2 separate regions of the Homo sapiens genome follow, and region 2 is linked to region 1. The links come from fine-mapping of genetic effects on gene expression. A gene starts in region 1. The other region holds a variant in brackets. All regions are shown on one strand. Distances are from middle to middle.

The links. PIP is the estimated chance that this variant, and not a neighbour inherited with it, causes the effect.
Region 2: its variant is fine-mapped to the expression of TMED4 in whole blood (TOPMed, PIP 0.98).

The regions. Positions count from the first base shown.
Region 1 is chr7:44,579,940-44,585,313 of GRCh38, forward strand. It overlaps TMED4 (transmembrane p24 trafficking protein 4), which reads right to left and starts at 2,292. Exons shown (of 5, transcript NM_182547.4): 1 at 2,108-2,292; 2 at 1,784-1,884; 3 at 1,510-1,635; 4 at 1,154-1,300. The coding sequence starts at 2,267. RefSeq lists silencers at 1,916-2,015, 2,416-2,575 and an enhancer at 2,666-2,775.
Region 2 is chr7:44,628,807-44,634,180 of GRCh38, forward strand. The region is part of intron 2 of OGDH (oxoglutarate dehydrogenase); the gene reads left to right. Among named protein-coding and RNA genes, the nearest start is that of OGDH, 25 kb to the left of the region's middle. RefSeq lists enhancers at 1,002-1,051, 5,325-5,374. The variant G/A (reference allele first, on the strand shown) is at 2,893.

The DNA.
Region 1 (5,374 bases):
AAAAATGACTACTGAAAGCGAAATGTGGCACATGCATACAATGGAATATTAGCCTTAAGAAATTCTGACACATGCTATAACATGGATGAACTGTGAGAACATTATACTCAGTGAAATAAGCCAGTCACAAAAGGACAAATACTGAATGATTCCACTTATATGAGATAGGGTAGTCAGGATCATAGAGACAGAAAGTAGAATGGTGGGTGTCAGGACAAAAGGAAACGGGAAGTTATTGTTTATAATAAGTACAGATTTGCTGGGTGCAGTGGCTCACGCCTGTAATCCCAACACTTTGGGAGGCTGCGGCAGTGGATTGCCTGAGGCCAGGAGTTCAAGACCAGCCTGGCCAACATGGTGAAACCCAGTCTCTACTAAAAACACAAAAATGAGCCACGCATGGTGGCACTTGCCTGTAATCCCAGCTACTTGGGAGGCTGAGGCAGGAGAATCGCTTGAACCTGGGAGGCGGAGGGTGCAGTGAGCCGAGATGGCGCCACTGCGCTCCAGCCTGGGCAACAGAGCGAGACTCCATCTCAAAAACAAAACAAAATAAGTACAGATTTTTAGTTTGAGAAGATGAAAAAGTTCTGGAGCTGGATGATGGTGTTGGTAGCACAACATTATGAAGGCACTTAATACCACTGAACTATATAGACAGTTAAAATGACACATTTGGTGTTATATTTTACCACAATAAAATGTTTTGATAAAAAAGCAAAACAGGCAGGGCGCGGTAGCTCACACCTGTAATCCCAGCACTTTGGGAGGCTGAGGCGGGCGGATCACTTGATGTCGGGAGTTCGAGACCAGCCTGACCAACGTGGAGAAACCCCCGTCTCTACTAAAAGTACAAAATTAGCCAGGCATGGTGGCGCATGCCTGTAATCCCAGCTACTCAGGAGGCTGAGGCAGGAGAATCGCTTGAACCTGGGGAGGCGGAGGTTGCAGTGAGCCAAGATCATGGCATTGCACTCCAGCATGGGCAACAAGAGTGAAACTCCGTCTCAAAAACAACAAACAAACAACCTATCTAAACCAATACTTCTCATTCCATTCTCTGCAGAGCTGATCTCCCAAGCAGAAACTTGAGTAGGTATAGTGGGTATAAAGGTCAACTGCCCTCTCAAATTACAAGGAGATATGCACTTGCCCTTTGGTAATCCTGCTCCTTCTGAATCTGTTCCACCTGATCAAGCAACTGGCGGGCGCGGAGCTGTAGCTCCGTCAGCTTATCTTTTGCAGCAATCTCAGGGTAGTTGTTGGCATGCTCCCCAACCTGGATGTCGAGATGCACCCGCTACAAGGAAACATGGAATGTATGAGTGGTGGGGCCTCCAGTTGTCTGTTCCAGGGTATGGAACCCACTATTGTCCCTGGCTGTGGAGCAGAAGGCAACATCTGTCTCCCCAATTCTGACTGTGCTACAAAGTTTCACAATCTTGATAAATCAAAATTTGGAAACAAGTGAGAGATTCTAAGCTGAAGCCAAAGAGAAAATCCTCTTACCAGTTTGCCACCAGCGAAGAGAGCCATCCTGGTAGAATTGGAGTGCAGACAGATTTGATGGTCACCGGGCGTGTGGGAGGTGAACGTGAAGCGGCCCTCCGAGCCGTACTGCCGGGACAGCACCACCTGCAACATATGTGAGTGAAGGCCCCACCTTTATACCGCAGGCTCTCCAAGTGCAAGTTCCTGTCCCTTGAGGCCTCCTCCAGGCAGTGCTTTACACCCCACGGGAGCTCCACTGAAGAACGGCTGCGTGGGCCAACGCCAGCCTTACCTTGCCGTCGGGGTCCTTCACTTCCACGTGCATGCCCAGGCCAGGGGTCGAGGGCAGGAAGACCTCCTTCTGCTTATCCCACATCTGGGTACGATAGTTGCCTGCGGGGCAGACACATAGTCACGACCGGCCCTAGTGGGCCGCCTCTCCGCCCGGCCCCCTCCGACGTGCGGCCCGGAGCTCTAGGCAGGGGGCCTGGCGTCCTCGGGGCACCCTCAGGCTAGGTACTGGGGGAGCCAGCGACCCGGCTGGGCTCGGGAGGAGGGAGCGCCGCCGAGGGCTGAGCTGGGTACAAAGGGCCTCCCCACCCTCAGCCCGCCTGACCGATGACCATGGTCTCGTCGGGGATTTCCTCGATGAAACAGCGCTTCTCGGTCTCGCCGATGTGGAAGTAGAGCCCCTGGGCGCCTGTGGCGCACAGCGCGAGAAGCAGCAGGGCCTGCCGCCCCATCGCCCGCAGAGGCCCAGCCCCGACACCTGCCATCGCGCCTCAGCCCCTAAGCGCCTGCGCACATTTGCGCATCGCTCTGCGCCTGCGCGCCACCCTAGCGACCCTGAGAGTTAGGGGAAGAGGACGCCTGCGCAGTGATATGTACTCGCCGTCTCCTGCAACTCCATCCGTACCGAACACTGCCGCGCCCCGCCCCCTCACACAGCCCGGCGCCCGCCTACCCCCGCAACGAGAGTAGAGGGCGCATGCGCAATGACGTTCGCCCTTAATTTCTCGCCCCTTACCCCGCAGCTTACCTCCGGCATCTCGCAGGGGAGGCACGCCTGCGCAGTCACGCCCGCCCTCGGCCCCAGTCAGCGATTTGGGTCTCGGAGCACCAAGGAGACGGTGGACGGAATCTGACCAGGCTTGGTGGCTACGATGGCCTGAAGCGTGCCTTTTGGGTTCTCAGCTCGGGCTCACAAGTGTTTTCTGTGCTAAATACAAAAAGCCCTGTGATGTTTTGCTTTGCGTGTCCACCTATCTGACTCGTAAGAACCGAGGCTGAATCCAGACCCACACTCTGTCACGTCGGGAGAGCCTGCCGCGGCGAGCCTCTGCGAGCGGGCATTTCTTGGGTGGGGACCAAAAGCCCAGTGCTGCCATAGTTTCGGATCATTCTTTTAAGAAGCTGGGGCCGGGCGCGGTGGCTGGCACCTGTAATCCCAGCACTCTGGGAGGCTGAGGCGGGCGGATCCCTTGAGCCCAGGAGTTCGGGACCAGCCTGGGCAACATGGTGAAACCCCCGTCTCTACAAAAAATTAACCGGTGTGGTGGTGTGCGCATGTAGTCCCAGCTACTTGGGAGGCTGAGGCAGGAGAATCGCTTGAACCCAGGAGGTCGAGGATGCATTAAGCAGTGATCGCGCTCCAGCCTGGGCGACCGAGGGTGATACCTTGTCTTAAAAAAAAGGTGGGAGAGTGGAACGAAAACTTGGAATAAGTAGGGTCATGGAGCTTGTTTACATCCCCTAGTTACAGCACATCCTTTTGAAAGTGAAAAACAAACTGGAATGTTACTTAGTGGGCATGGAATCGAAGCAACGGAAGGTTAAAACTGTTTTTATCAAGGCCAGGCGGGCGCGGTGGCTCACGCCTGTAATGCTAACACTTTGGGCGGCCAAGGCTGGTGGATCATCTGAGGTTAGAAATTCGAGACCAGTTGGGCCAACAAGGTGAAACCCCCGTCTCTACTAAAAATACATTTTATCAACAGAATTTCGAAACTTTTATATAATAGAATAATTACAATGAACTTTCATAAAGAACTTGAGCATACCTGGATTTTGGTATCCGTAGGGGTCCAGGAATTATCCCCCTTGGATAATAACGGAGGGCTGTACTCATCATCCAACTTCAACAACAGTTTGCTGCCTTTCTCATTTCATGTATCCCTTTCTGCATTTTTTTTTGAAGTGCTGTATATTAAAGCAAATCCTGGACATCATGTCATTTCACCTATAAATACGTCAGTGTGTGTCTCTAACAGATAAGGACTTTATACTATTATCACACCCACCAAAATTTTAAAAATTATTTAACATCACTTAATACCTAGTATGTGTTTAATTTTCCCCATTGCCTTAAAAAATTTTGTACATTAGATATTTAGGGTCCAAACAAGGTTTACTTACTGCATTTCATACAAATATATGTCTCTTAATATATAACAATTTTGGCTGGGCACAGTGGCTCATGCCTGTAATCCCAGCACTTTGGGAGGCTGAGGTGGAAGGATCACTTGAGGTCAGGAGTTTGAGACCAGCCTGGCCAACATGGTGAAACCCTGTTTCTACTAAAAATACAAAAATTAGCCAGGTGTGGTGGTGCACACCTGTAATCTCAGCTACTTGGGAGGCTGAGGCAGGAGAATTGCTAGAATCAGGGAGGTGGAGGTTGCAGTGGGCTGAGATGATGCCACTGTACTCCAGCCTAGGCAACAGAGTGAGATTCTATCTCAAAACAAACAAAAACAGGGCCGGGCGCAGTGGCTCACACCTGTAATCCCAGCACTTTGGGAGGCCAAGGTGGGCAGATCACGAGGTCAGGAGTTCGAGACCAGCCTGGCCAATATGGTGAAACCCTACCTCTACCAAAAATACAAAAATTAGCTGGGTGTGGTGGTGCTCACCTGTAGTCCCAGCTACTTGGGAGACTGAGGCAGAAGAATCGCTTGAACCCAGGAGGCAGAGGTTGCAGTGAGCCGAGATCATGCCACTGCACTCCAGCCTGGGTGAGAGAGAGACTCGTGTCCAAAAAAAAAAAAACAAACCATATAACAACATATATATATATTATACATATTATATATATATTATATATATAAATTTCCCCTCTCTTTTTGTTGTTTGTTATTCATGGCATTTACTTATTGAAGAAACTGGGTCATTTGACCAACAGAATTTTCCACTTTCTGGGTTTTGCTGATTGTATCTTCAGGTGTCATTTAACGTTTTTTGTCCCTGGTATGTCCTGTAATCACAGTTAATTCTAGAGTCAGGGGAGGTTTACAGTGAAACTAATGAAGCTTAATCTTCAGGCCCTCCCTTGCATAGACCCCCGTACCTAATTTCGCATTTATAATTTTGTGTCTTTTTCTTAAAGAGGACTGTGAAATTTGTATAGTTTAAGGCCCCACAAAGCTTGGATTTGCCCCTGGCTAGAAGCTTCATTAGGTTTAGGTGTAATGTTGAGGTTTGGGTTTTTTTGTTTTGTTTTGTTTGCAATAACGCTTCGTGGCTGGCACTATGTACTTCTACTGAGGCACAAGGCGGGTTTGTCTCTTAGTAATATTGTAATTCATCTCTCAATTTGGGGGTTGTCATCCTGATTATCCATGAAGTTTACCATCAGCCTTTCTTCTAATAGTCTAGCAAACGTTGATGATCATTAGACCATTGGTTCTCAACGAGGGTTGATTCTGCCCTGTCCTACCAAGGGGAAATTTGGCAATGTCTGGAGATATTTTGGATTGTTGCAACTGGGTGGGGGGTGGCGGGTGGTACTGCTGTTATCTAGAAAATGAATGCAAGGAATACTGCTAAACATTGTATAATTCACAGAGCACACCTCCCCCCCACAGCGAAGAATTATCCAGCTCAA
Region 2 (5,374 bases), 49 kb after region 1:
GTAAAATATTTTAGCAAATCAGAGCTGCAAGTACCTTTTTTACCCTAAGTCCACTCCCCAGAACAGAATCCGGTTAACTAGCTGACCTGGGTCTGTCTCTGTGGTGGGCCCATCTGCCATCTCCCTTTTGTTCCTACCTTTGGTCCTGTCCTAGACTTTCGTCTCTGTTCTAGTCTGGCATTTGTGCTCCTCACTGACCCCTCTTAAGAGCCTTCAGCGGTGGCCTGGGCTGTCAGCCTATGAAACCCTCCTCATTAGGGTCTCAGCATATTTGAGGTCACATCAAATGATGACATCTTTATTTATGTCTTTAAGACACAGTCAGAGCTAAGTTATCCTTGTTAATGTTTAAGACAAACAGGTAATTGAGAACTGCTAAGCCCCCATGAGTCTGGGTGTTGATCTCATTTTGTTTTGTAGGGACAGGTGCCCACCTACAGCTGTAGCATGGTGTTGAGTTCCTTGTGATGCATCTGCCAGGTTCTGGCCCTGCTGAGGAAGAGCCAGGATTAGGTCCTGAGGGAGTGGAAGGAGCTGGGGCCTGTTGTTCTTCTCCCAACAGTGCCTTCAGCAGCTGCCTTGAGGGTGCCATCATTGGCCCTGCTTTTCTTCTAGGCCCTCCTGGCCATTTGGCTTTCTCACAGCTTGCTTTGTACCTCAGGGCTCTTCCTCTGCTCTGTGCTTTCCTCTGCCCTGCCCACCTGCCTAAAGCCTGCCTCCCTGTTCTTGTTAACTGATGCCCATTTCTTTTCTTTCCTTTTTCTTTTTCTTTTCTTTTTTTTTTTTTTTTTTGAGACGAGTCTCGCTCTGTCACCAAGTCTGGAGTGCAGTGGCGCAGTCTCGGCTCTCTGCAACTTCCGCTTCCTGGGTTCAAGCAATTCTCGTACCTCAGTCTCCCAGCTAGCTGGGATTACAGACGTGCCCCATCACGCCTGGCTAATTTTTGTATTTTTAATAAAGACGGGGTTTCACCATGTTGGCCAGGCTGGTCTTGAACTCCCGACCTCAGGTGATCCGACCGCCTCGGCCTCCCAAAGTTCTGGGATTATGGGCGTGAGCCATCATGCCCGGCCTGATGCCTGTTTCTTGATGGTTTTTTCTTCTTGCACTTTTCACGTGTCAGCTCCTAAAGTGTGTACATGTGGTCGCTGCAGGAGGGAGGGTCTCTATGCGTTCAGATTACAGGTGCAGGCTGTTGGCCTGCTGCTGAGTCTGGCATCGCTGCTCATCTGTCGACACCGTTCTGCTTCCTCCTTTCGTGCTTATGAAACACAGTACTGGTGTTTTCTATGGGTGAAACTAAGTGGAGGAAAAGCACAGATACACAAACTGTCCCATTATGCAGTGTTATGGGCCTTTTCACTCTGCAGTGTTGAAACTGCCTTGGCCTCACTTTGAAAAATAGGACTATGGTACCCATGGTTGTGTCCTGGCCTGGGGTTCCTCCCATGGCAGGAGCCCTGCTCCAAGTTACCCTCCTAGCCGCTGCATGTGCGGTGAAGGGGCTTCCCACAGTGGGTATGTGGAAGTCTGATGGAAGTCTGATGTGCTCATAAGGAGATCTGATATGTTCACGTGACAAGGAACAGCTGTGTTGAAAAATCTGCAGAACACTTTGGTGCCACTCAAGTTATTTATTTCTGGGAATAATTCACAAGGCACTTTAGGCAATGCCAGTTGGGTGGTTGGAATGCATTTTGAGTATTTTAATCTTTTATGTTTGATTTATGAATGACTTATCAGAAATATATGTAGTCATTCCTTGGTATCTGTGGGGGATTGGTTCCAGGGCACACTGAGGATACTAAAATCCAAGGAAGCTCATGTCCCTTGTATAAAATGAAATATAAACTATGCACGTTCTCCCATATACTTTAAATCATCTCTAGATTACTTGTAATACCTAATACAAGGTAAATGCTATGCAGATAGTTGTTATACTTCATTGTTTGTGGCAGCAGTCCCCAACTCCTTTGGCACCAGGGACCAGTTTCGTGGAAGACAATTTTTCCATGGACTGAGGGATCAGGGGAGGATGGCTTTGCAGTGAAACTGTTCCACCTCACATCAGGCATTAGTTAGATTCTCATAAGGAGTGAACTTAGATCCCTTGCATGCACAGCTCACAATCCAGTTGGCTCTCCCATGAGAATCTAATGCCCCCGCTGATGTGACAGGAGGTGGAGCTCAGGTGGTAATGCTCGCTTGCCGCTCACTTCCTGCTATGCAACCCAGTTCCAAACAGGCCACTGACCAGTACTGGTCTGTGGCCCGGGGGTTGGGGATCCCTGGTTTAGAGAATAATAACAGGAAAAAAAAGTGTACATGTTCAGTACAGGCAGTTTTTTACCAACTATTTTCAATCCACGTTTGGTTGAATCCATGGATGCAGAACCCACAGATACGGAGGGCTGACTGTATACATAAACTGCATGGTCTACGTAAATGGGGTTTCAGCGATGAGCTTTGAAGTTACCCCTTGATGATTTTTTGTTTTTGAAGATTCAGGAGGTACATGTGTGGGTTTGTAACATGGGTACGTTAAGTAATGGTGGGAATTGGGTTTCTAGTGTACCCATCACCCAGATAATGAACATTGTACCCAATAGGCAATTTTTCAACCCTCACTCTCCTACCACCCTCCCCCACCGCCACTTGATAATCTTTAACTTCACATGTTAAGAGCAATCTCAGCACTTGTGGCTTTTTGTGTTAAATCAGCTAAACTGACTGAGTGCGCCTTCTCCAACTTTAGCACAGTATTTCACTCTTAAGCAGTTTGCATTTATGGTTTATTTAGGGTGATAAAATTATAACCTCTTTGAAACAACAGGAAACATGAAGCAACACCCTCACTTGTGTGGTAGTTTGCAGCTCATGACAGCTGTGTTC[G/A]AAGCTTGTGCTGAGTGGCGGCTGCAAGAGGAAAAGCAGTCTTGCCCTGTTATCCTAGCAGGATGATTAAATAAGTTTAAACAACAGTTAAAATTCTAGCTCTCTTTTCTCTCTCTCTCTCCCCCTCTCCACCCCCTTCCCTCTTTCCTTTCTCTCTCCTCTCTCTCCCGGCCCTTAAAAAGAAAAATAAATAAATAAAAACATTTGGAATTCTAATAGAACCCACTGAGCTTCTGAAAGGAAGTGCATTATGCTGTGCTGTGAAGGAGCCCAACAGGGGCTCACGGTCACTCAGCAGGATGATGGATGCAGGCTTCAGGGCCAGGAGCCAGACGCAGCAAGAAAAAACCAAAAATTTGGATTATGAAGTAAATGGAGAGGTTCCAAGATCAAACCAAGAGGTGTTTGTTGATTTTGTTATGTGCTGTGGGAGCATGGACCCCTCAGCAGGTAGAAGGAGAGCAAGTTTGAGGATGTGGTGCAGGAGGAGTTGGGATCCCCAAGAGCAGGAGGGACTGAGGCCAGGACAGCAGGCATACGAGGTCACTGAGGCTGGTGGGAGGAGAGAGGCTTACTCTAAATGAGGATCACTGCATCTTTTGGAGCTCTTCTTTTTGAGACAGGGTCTCCATTACCCATACTGGAGTGCAGTGGCACCATGATAGTAGCCTCAAACTTCTGGGCTCAAGTAATCCACTCCCCCGCCACTCCCCCACGCCTCAGCTTCCTGAGTAGCTGGGAGTACAGGTGCACACCACCATGCCTGACTAATATTTTATATTTTTTATAGAGACAGGGTCTTGTTTTTTTGCCCAGGCTGGTCTCAAACTCCTGGCTTCAAGCCATCCTCCTGCCTTGCCTCCTAAAGTGGTGGGATTACAGGCGTGAGCCACTGAGCCTGGTGGATGTTTTTTGTTGTTGTTGTTATTGTTGTTTTGAGATGGACTTTCGCTCTGTCACACAGGCTAGAGTGCAATGGCACGATCTCGGCTCACTGCAACCTCCGCCTCCCCGGGTTCAAGTGATTCACCTGCCTCAGGCTCCCAAGTAGCTGGGACCATAGGCGCGTGCCACCACGCCTGGCTAATTTTTTGTATTTTTAGTAGAGACGGGGTTTCGCCATGTTAGCCAGGATGGTCTCAATCTCCTGACCTCATGATCCGCCTGGTGGATGTTTTTAATGATTATCCTTTTGTACTGTACTTTAAGAAAAAAAAAATTTTGTTTAATGTCAGAAATTGAAAGGGGAGAGAGATCAAAAATACCTTAATGGGGCCAGGCACAGTGGCTCACGCCTGTAATCCCAGCACTTTGGGAGGCTGAGGTGGGCAGATCACGAGGTCAGGAGATCGAGACCATCCTGGCTAACATGGTGAAACCCTGTCTGTACTAAAAATACAAAAAATTAGCCGGGCATGGTGGCGCACCCCTGTAGTCCCAGCTACTTGGGAAGCTGAGGCAGGAGAATGGCGTGAACCTGGGAGGCGGAGCTTTTAGTGAGCCAAGATTGAGCCACTGCACTCTAGCCTGGGCAACAGAGCGAGACTCTGTGTCAAAAAAAAAAAAAAAAAAAAAACCCTCAATGGGAAAGTAGACTCCAAGAGTGAAAAGGAGCAAATTGTTCCAGTGAGTTCCATTCTGTAGCACAGGTGGCCACAGGTGCTTGCCTTTGAGGAAATGAAAGAGCCATGCTTTGTAAGTCAGAGGCAGGCTCAGCTTCCCCGCACAGTCTGAAGCTGGGTGGCGGTGAGAAATTACTAAAAGGTTAGTGCCGGTTTTTTAGATGAAGTCATCATGTTATTAAAAAATAGTCTGTTTAGTCTCTAGGTTACTGTTCTCTGGCTCCCCTCCCCATCCAAGACTCCCTTGGAGGGAGGTTTGAGGACTTTGGGATTCTCATATCTCTTCGCGTCCATGATTGGATCGTGAGGTGAGGAGATAGCCTTTAGAACCCTCTCTTTGAGTGGTCAGTCACGTGGTATTCCCTCTGAAACCCTGGAGCAGATGCTTTGTGTAGCTGGGCTGGGGTTCCCCCAAATAGGGTTGCATAATTATTGAGGACAGATGAGGCCTCAACCAGACGACCACAGGTGACCCCAGACTGTGGGTCTTCCTCACCTCCTTGAGAGTTGCAATTCTGAGAGCTGATAAAATGTGCCATTGTGTGCAGATCTGGGTAGTTTGAAGCGTTCTCATTTCCTGAGGTGTGTCAGAAAGACTGCGTGAGAAAGGGGTCACAGTATCTTGGATGTCATCTTTTCATGCAGTAAAAAGTCTGGTTTCCATGAATGTTTGTATAACAAACCACCTCAAAACTTGGCACCAGTGTAGCATGTCTCATGACTCTGTGGGTTGGCTAGGTTTCCCCACTCCTCCCACTGCCAGCTCCCTTGGAGCTGAGGCTCACACCAGGCTAGAAGCCATGAAGGCCTCTGATGTGTCTGGCAGTTTGTGCTGGCTGTTCACTGGGCCCTGCCATCCT